2 linked regions of the Homo sapiens genome follow. The protein of the gene in region 1 purifies or fractionates together with the protein of each later gene. This does not show direct contact. Each region holds a gene or a part of one and is shown on either strand. Other genes may lie near its edges.

Evidence for each region. The genes of interacting proteins can lie anywhere in the genome.
Region 2: the proteins of ZNF546 (region 1) and DNAJC10 purify together in Homo sapiens (co-immunoprecipitation; one large-scale study listed by IntAct). This does not show direct contact.

Annotation. Positions count from the first base shown.
Region 1 is NC_000019.10:39,995,873-39,999,859, forward strand, and holds the start of ZNF546 (zinc finger protein 546), read left to right. Parts: upstream 1-1,187; 5' UTR 1,188-1,285; intron 1,286-1,988; 5' UTR 1,989-2,043; intron 2,044-2,375; 5' UTR 2,376-2,454; coding exon 2,455-2,538; intron 2,539-3,987. UniProt on the Homo sapiens protein: May be involved in transcriptional regulation.
Region 2 is NC_000002.12:182,722,757-182,726,256, reverse strand, and holds part of DNAJC10 (dnaJ homolog subfamily C member 10 isoform 1 precursor), read right to left. Parts: intron 1-3,500. UniProt on the Homo sapiens protein: Endoplasmic reticulum disulfide reductase involved both in the correct folding of proteins and degradation of misfolded proteins.

The DNA of each region.
Region 1 (3,987 bases):
AGTCCCTTCAATCTGGTTTCCATGTCCTTTGAACACGTCCCCACCATTCTTTGAGCACTGCCTTACTTTCAAGCACAAGATGTTCCAAGTTCATTCTGAACTTTCCCTTCCCCAGCTCTGGAATCTGCCATTTCTCCATGGAGCCTTGCTCCTTTCAGTGGAGCATGGTATTTAGGAACCAAGGGCTGACTGCCTAATGTGCTTTCCAAGTATAATTTCCTCAGTCCAAGCTTTTCAAATTGATCTGCCAAAGACCCATTGCCAAAGATCCATTGCCAGAATATAAGAGTGGAAGGAAATTCTTAATATTTTTTGAAAGTTACTATTATTTTCATTTTTCTCTTTGTAAAAAATTCATTTAATTCAATATAAAAAGACAAAAATCTTTGGCACATAAATCGCAACTCTCTGATGCAAATGTTTAAATAAAGCTGATACTCCAAGAAGACGCAACATATTCTCTTTATCCCACAGACATATAGGCCTATGGTTGCAAACTTTTATACACACACAGAGTCACAATTCCACTGGCACCCGTGATGTTCCACATCCAGATTTTCCAAATCACACATTCTCATCTTCACATAGCCTTGCCGGCAACCACACGGCATAGTACCACATTGTTACGTCAAGCACAGCCAGTCTACCACAGAGCCTGTCGTCCCATTGACCAAAGTCACAAAAATCACAGCCCCGGGTATTTACTGTGGTTTTCTCCAGTCAGATCCCTTCACTCACTACACACTGACTCACACTCAAATTACACACACGCGGAAACACAACCCGCCAGAGCCAGAGAGGTTCCGTCGGTCCCGCAACCCTCACAGTGCCACACACACGCGCTCACAAGGCAAATACAAATGGCCAGGCACTCATTCTTTACAATACACATATTAAGCGCCTATTATGTACTACACGCCGGGACTACCTCAAGAGGTGAAACAAACAAAATCCTGCCTGGCGGAGCTATCGCCCAGTCCCGCACGCACTCGGCCTCAGGGTCACACTCGGCGGTCCCACGCTCAAGTGGCCCGGCCAGTGGCCCAGAGGCGTCTGTTCTCCTCCTCAGCTTCCTGCGTGGGTTCCTGGTAAGTGAGTCGAACCCGCCGGATGCGCGCGCGCCTGCGCCTCCGCCCAAAAGGATCAGTTTCCGGCTGTGGACTACATTTCCCAGAAGCCCCTTGGGCAGTGTTGCCTGGACCCCAAGGGCCCTTTACATTGCGTTCTTAACGGTTCAGTCACCTTAACCGTTATTATTCACTTGCGGGCGAGAAGTCCGAGCTAGGTGAGGCGGAACGGGACTCTTACGAGTAGGACTGGGGATAGAACTGCCGCCCAAAGTGAGGCGCTCCAGGGCCCAGACCTGGCGTGTCGTGCCCGCAGGGAGCCTCAGGCCTGTGCGTGCTTGGGGAGCGGAGAAGGGAAATTGTGTGACAAAATGTGGCAGACGGTGTATGTGTGTGTGTGCGCGCGACGGGGCGCCTGTCAGGACCGGGTTGGGCGGGTGTGGGTGCGGGTGTGAGGCTGAGACAGGTGCCTGGCTCTCTGGTGTGTGTCACTGACCCTCTACCCTCCTCACGGCCTCGGTGTTTGCACACAGCAGTGTCCCCAAGAGGGAAGTCAAATATCGAGCTCTGGGATGAAGGTTCCCAGCAAGAAGGTACAGACCTGGGTTGGCGATTGGACTTTTGAATTAGAAGTGTCCCTAAAACAGACTCCTGGGACGACAGGTTGGAAGACTGCGCAGTTGGAGCCGCTGTGTGGGCAGCTGCATGTTTCAGAACCACTGCATTCCCATACCTTTGATCTAGAAACCTGGTGTGAGTTCAGAGACAGATCCCAGCCTCACTCTCACACAGCTGTTATGTGCGTGAGGTCAGCACAGATGTGGCGCTGGAGGGGATATTCTAGGTCGGTCTGTGCTCTTAAGAAAGGCCTGCTGTCTCATGATTATTTTTCTTCCCCCATTCTGCTATTCATCAAAACAGGGATCCTGAAAAGGAGGGAACAATTGTTGTAGCAGGTCTAAAAGTTCAGGTCCAGGTAAGTTTATATTTCCTTTTTATTCATAAAATGGAAATCACACATTCTAATCCTCACACAGCCTTGCCTGCACCCAGTCATACGGCGTGGTACCACACTGCTATGTCAAGCACAGCCACAATCTACCACAGAGCCTGTCACCTCATTGCTCACAGTCACAAAAATCACATCCCCAGGTACTTTCTGTAGCTTTCATTTGCATTTTTCCCTTTGAAGAAGTTCATTTGATTCAATCTAAAAAGACTAAATTATTTGTCACATAAATTGCAACTCTCTGGTCTATATCTTTAAGTAAATCTTTAAATAAATGCATAAAATGTTTTTGTTTTTAGGAAATGGAAACATTGCTTTGCTTTTCCTGAATTGTCCAGTGACCTATCCCAGGCCTTCCTTTCCAGTGAACAATGGACCATGCAGGTGGACCCTCCTCTTCACGGGCCTCCAAATGACTTTCTCATTTTTCAAATCATTCCTCTGCACTCACTTTCTATAATGGTAGAGAAATGCATATCCTGGAGTCTAAAGTTAAAACTTTGTTTTATTGAGATTAATGTTTAGGTAGAATCACATCATCCATCTTCTCCAATCTTCTCCAAAGACCTCAGTTTTAAAATATGACAGGATTAGAGATGACCTGACTAGTGTCAGTAAGCAAGTGATAATGGTCGCCTGCTTTTAAGGCTTTTAGAAGTGGGAATGTGATTGGAAGTCCAAGCATAGAAATCTGTGTGAACATGAGCAGGGATTTTTTTCCAAGGAATCCATGAGTTGAGATTTATTTTTATACAGAGTTAGTCATAAGAATAAAAAGTACATATGAGTAAAGTAATAGTCATAGTGATGAAGAATAATACGCAATTTTTTTTTCTTTTTTTGAGAAGGAGTCTCGCTGTGTCACCCAGGCTGGAGTGCAATGGCATGAACTCGGCTTACTGCAGCCTCTGCCTCCTGGGTTCAAGTGATTCTCCTGCCTCAGCCTCCCAGGTAGCTGGGATTACAGGCGCCTGCCACCATGCCTGGCTAATTTTTGTATTTTTAGTCGAGACAGGGTTTCACCACGTTGGCCACGCTGGTCTGGAACTCCTGACCTCAGGTGATTCACTTGCCTTGGCCTCCCAAAGTGCTGGGATTACAGGCATGAACCACCGCACCCAGCCGCAAATTTTAAATTTTATATGAATCTCACTAATATTAGGATTTAAAGACATTTAACAAGCATTATATCTAAATTAACATTTCAACTGATTATTTGCTGGAGAAGTAGAGGAGAACCAAACACTCTTCTGTCTGCTTTGTTCAAATTTTCTTATTCAGTCTGCAGACACTGTTCACCTGGCTTGTGTATTAAGAGAAGAATCTTAACAGTGAAAAGGTCTTGTTGAATTGAAGAAGAATGTTCAAGAACTGGCAGGCATTTATTTATAATGGTCATGCTGTTTTCCTATTGTTTGCATACATGTCAAACCAATTTGCTTCTGATGTGTTAAAACATTTTATTTTATAATTGGATATAGATCTATTGTATACTTCTGGTTATAGAATTAATATTCACCTTTTATAAATTATTTAGTTACTCATTATATTACATAAGGCACTTATAAAGAAGAAAGTTAAAATAGCCCCAGCATCACTATTAACACTTTGGGGAGCTATATTTTAGCAAGATTTTTTTTTTTTTTTGACAGAGTCTCGTTCTGTTGCCCAGGCTGGAGTGCAGTGATGTGATCTTGGCTTACTGCAACCTCCATCTCCCAGGTTCAAGAAATTCTCCTGCCTCAGCCTCCCGAGTAGCTGGGATTACAGGCGCCTGCTACCACGCCCAGCTAATTTTTTGTATTTTTAATAGAGATGGGGTTTCGCCATGTTGGCCAAGCTGGTCTCAAACTCCTGACCTCAGGTGATCCACCCACCTCGGCCTCCCAAAGTGCTGGGATTACAGGTGTG
Region 2 (3,500 bases), on another chromosome or scaffold:
AATTCAGTCACATAATCAGGCTCCACTTCTAATTCCAGTTCTCTTGCTATTTCTATCACATCTACAGTTACATCCTCCATTGAAGCCTTGAACACCTCAAAGTCATCCATGAAGGTTGGAATGAACTTCTTCCCAACTCCTGTAACACTGATATTTTGACCTCCTTCCATGAATCACAGATGTTCTTAATGACACTAGAATGGTGACTCCTTTCCAGAAGGTTTCCAATTTACTTTGCCTGGATCCATCAGAGGAATCACTACCTATGGCAGGTAGAGCCTTATGAAATGTATTTCTTAGATAATATGACTTGAAGTTGAAATTACTCCTTGATTTACGGGCTGCAGAATGGATATGGTGTTAGCAGGCATGAAAAAAAAGTCCCAGATAGCATCTTCTTCCAATGGAAGGCTGTCTCATTAACATTGAGAATTTGTTGTTTAGTATAGCCACCTTCATCAATGATCTTAGCTAGATCTTCTGGAAAACTTGCTGCAGCTTCTATGTCGGGACTTGCTGCTTCATCTTGTATTTTGATGTTATGGAGATGGCTGTTTTCTTTAAACCTCATGAACCAACCTTTTCTAGCTTCAAACTTTTTTCTGCAGCTTCTTCATCTCTCTAAGCCTCCATAAAATTGAAAAGAATTAGGGTCTTTCTCTGGTTAGGCTTTCGCTAAGGGGATGTTGTAGATAATTTGATCTACCCAGACCACTAAGACATTCTCTATGTTAGCAGTATGGCTGTTTTGTGTTATCATTAGTGTGTTCACTGGAGTAGCACGTTTACTTTCCATGAAGAACTTTTCCTTTGCATTTATAATTTAACTAGCAAAAGAGGTCTACCTTTTAGCCTGTCTTGGGTTTTGATATGCCTCCCTCACTAAGCTTAATCATTTCTAGCTTCTGATTTAAAATGAGAGATGTGCATCTCTTCCACTTCAACACTTAAGAGGTCACTGTAGTTATTAATTGGCTTAATTTCAGTAATGTTGTATCTCAGGGAGTAGGGAGGCCCAAGAAGTGGGAGAGAAAAGGGAGAAGGAAGAGGGAGCAGTCAGAATAGACACAAAAATTAAGTATGCCATCCTATGGGCACACTCCAAAATGATTACAATAGTAACATCAAAGATCACTGACTGTAGATCACTGTAACAGACAGAATAATAATGAAAAAGTTTGGATACCAAAATGTGAGAAAGAGACATGAAATGAGCACATGCTATTGGAAACACGTTCAGCTGATAGACTCGCTTGATGTAGGGTTGCTAAAAACCTTCAATTTGTTAAGGAAAAAAAAGTGCATTATCTATGAAGTGCAATAAATCAAAGTGTAATAAAATGAGGTACACCTGTACTTTGTCTTCATCGAGCACTTCTCATATTTGCCAAGTTCCCACTGATTGCTGAGTAATAAGAATAAAGTTAAAATATTTTAAATACTGTATCATCACAGCTCAATGGGATGTTGTGCCTAACAGTGACCCAGAATAGAATTATTACATTTCAAAATGCAACTTTCCACTTCTAAACTATACAACTACAGCTACTGTCTGTTAATATACATACAACTCCAGTTAACAGCTTCTATTAGCAAAGTAAAATGTAATTACTTTGCCTGTAAGGTACAGATTAACTTTTTCCCCACAGGTCTATCTTATACTTGAAATGTAGGTGAACACTGAGTCCTGTACCTGTTTCTAATTAGCCTGAATTAGTTGCACGTATTTAGAATACCATGCATGTTTTAATGTCTTACTGTAATTTCTGAAATTTTTATTTTAAAATATTAACTAATTTTAACATGGAATCATATGGAAATCCTTTAACCAAAAGCAGATTACCCTCGCCTTTTTATCTTGAATGTGAAAGCACATTTTTACAATGTTAAATTTTTTAAGTGAGTAAAATTTGTAATTTGCATCAGGTCATTTTACAGATAAAATATAAACTGCACTATTGGCTAGATATCACATGTTCAAATCTATAATTTTAGCAAGTATGTATTAATGTTTTGAATTGTTAAAAAAAAGTCAATCTTTTCAAATAAAGTGATTTTCCAAGGTAATGTCTTATTTAGGGCTTATATTAAATTTAATCCCCGCAATCCTTACTGTATTATGTAGGTCTCTTATTTTATTCTTTCAGAGTTTACAGTAGCTGTCAGAATTGATTAAACCTACTTAACCTATGCTGCATATAATAGAAGAGCTTAGAAGGCATTTGCTTGTTGACTTTCTAGAGAGCCAGAAATGATAACATCTGCTTAGCAGAAAAATGCCTGGGAAAGCTTCACTAGAGGGTCCTTCTCTATCACAACAATGCTCCTGCTCATTCCTCTCATCAAGCAAGGTTAATTATTTATGAATTATCTCTGAAGTTTTGTGGCTGCAATTTATCTTGAACTACCATTTGGGGTTCTATATGAACTATTAACAGTTCTTAAGCTTTTCTGCATAGTGACACATCTGAAAAAGTGTGAACCCATATACAATATAACTATCAGTGAAGTCTCATTCTAGGTAGACTCATGGATTAGTAAGCTTGCAAGTTTTGTTCAGTTCCTCTATCTGTAATTCCGATGTTTTCTGAACCATTGGTACACAAAACACTTACTGATATATTAGGAGATGAGAGACAATAAAAACCACACAGGAACAGCTATAGGTTTATATAACTCACACGAGAGTTATGATTCTACCAGCTTGTGACATGAGCATTAATTCTATTAACAATCCAAATGAATCAAATTGTCTTATTTGCAGAACACAGGAAAGATGTATTTTCTATTCACTTAGAACATGTTCAAGTGTTCACCTAGAAGGCTTTTAACAAAGTAACACATTGAACAGCTATTTTGTATGTGAAGCTCACCAGCATGATGTAGAAAATAAGATTAAAATGCCACCCTTGGCCAGATGTGGTGGCTCATGCCTGTAATCCTGGCACTTTGGGAGGCCAACGTGGGTGGATCGCCTGAGGTCAGGAGTTCGAGATCAGCCTGGCCAACATGGTGAAATCCTGTCTCTACTAAAAATACAAATACAAAAATTAACTGGGTGTGGTAGCGGGCACCTGTAATCCCAGCTATTCAGAAGGCTGAGGCAGGAGAATCGCTTGAACCCAGGGGGCAGAGGTTGCAGTGAGCCAAGATCGTGCCACTGCACACTGGTCTGGGTGACAAAGCAAGACTCCGTCTCAAAAAAAAAAAAAAAAAAAAGCCACCCTTGCTTAGAAGGAACAAACTGTATAAAATCAAGTAGCTGTAATAAATTTTTAACGATAATATATGAAAAACATATAGATTTATATGTATTTTTTGCGACTGGTACGCTATTTTAGTTTTCTTTTTTTTTGTGGTGCCATCATGGCTCACTGCAATATCAGCCTCCCAGATTCACGCGATTCTTGTGCGTCAGCCTCCCAAGTAGCTGGGATTACAGGTGCGTGCCACCAGGCACACCTAATTTTTGTATTTTTAGTAGAGAGGGTTTTCCCCAT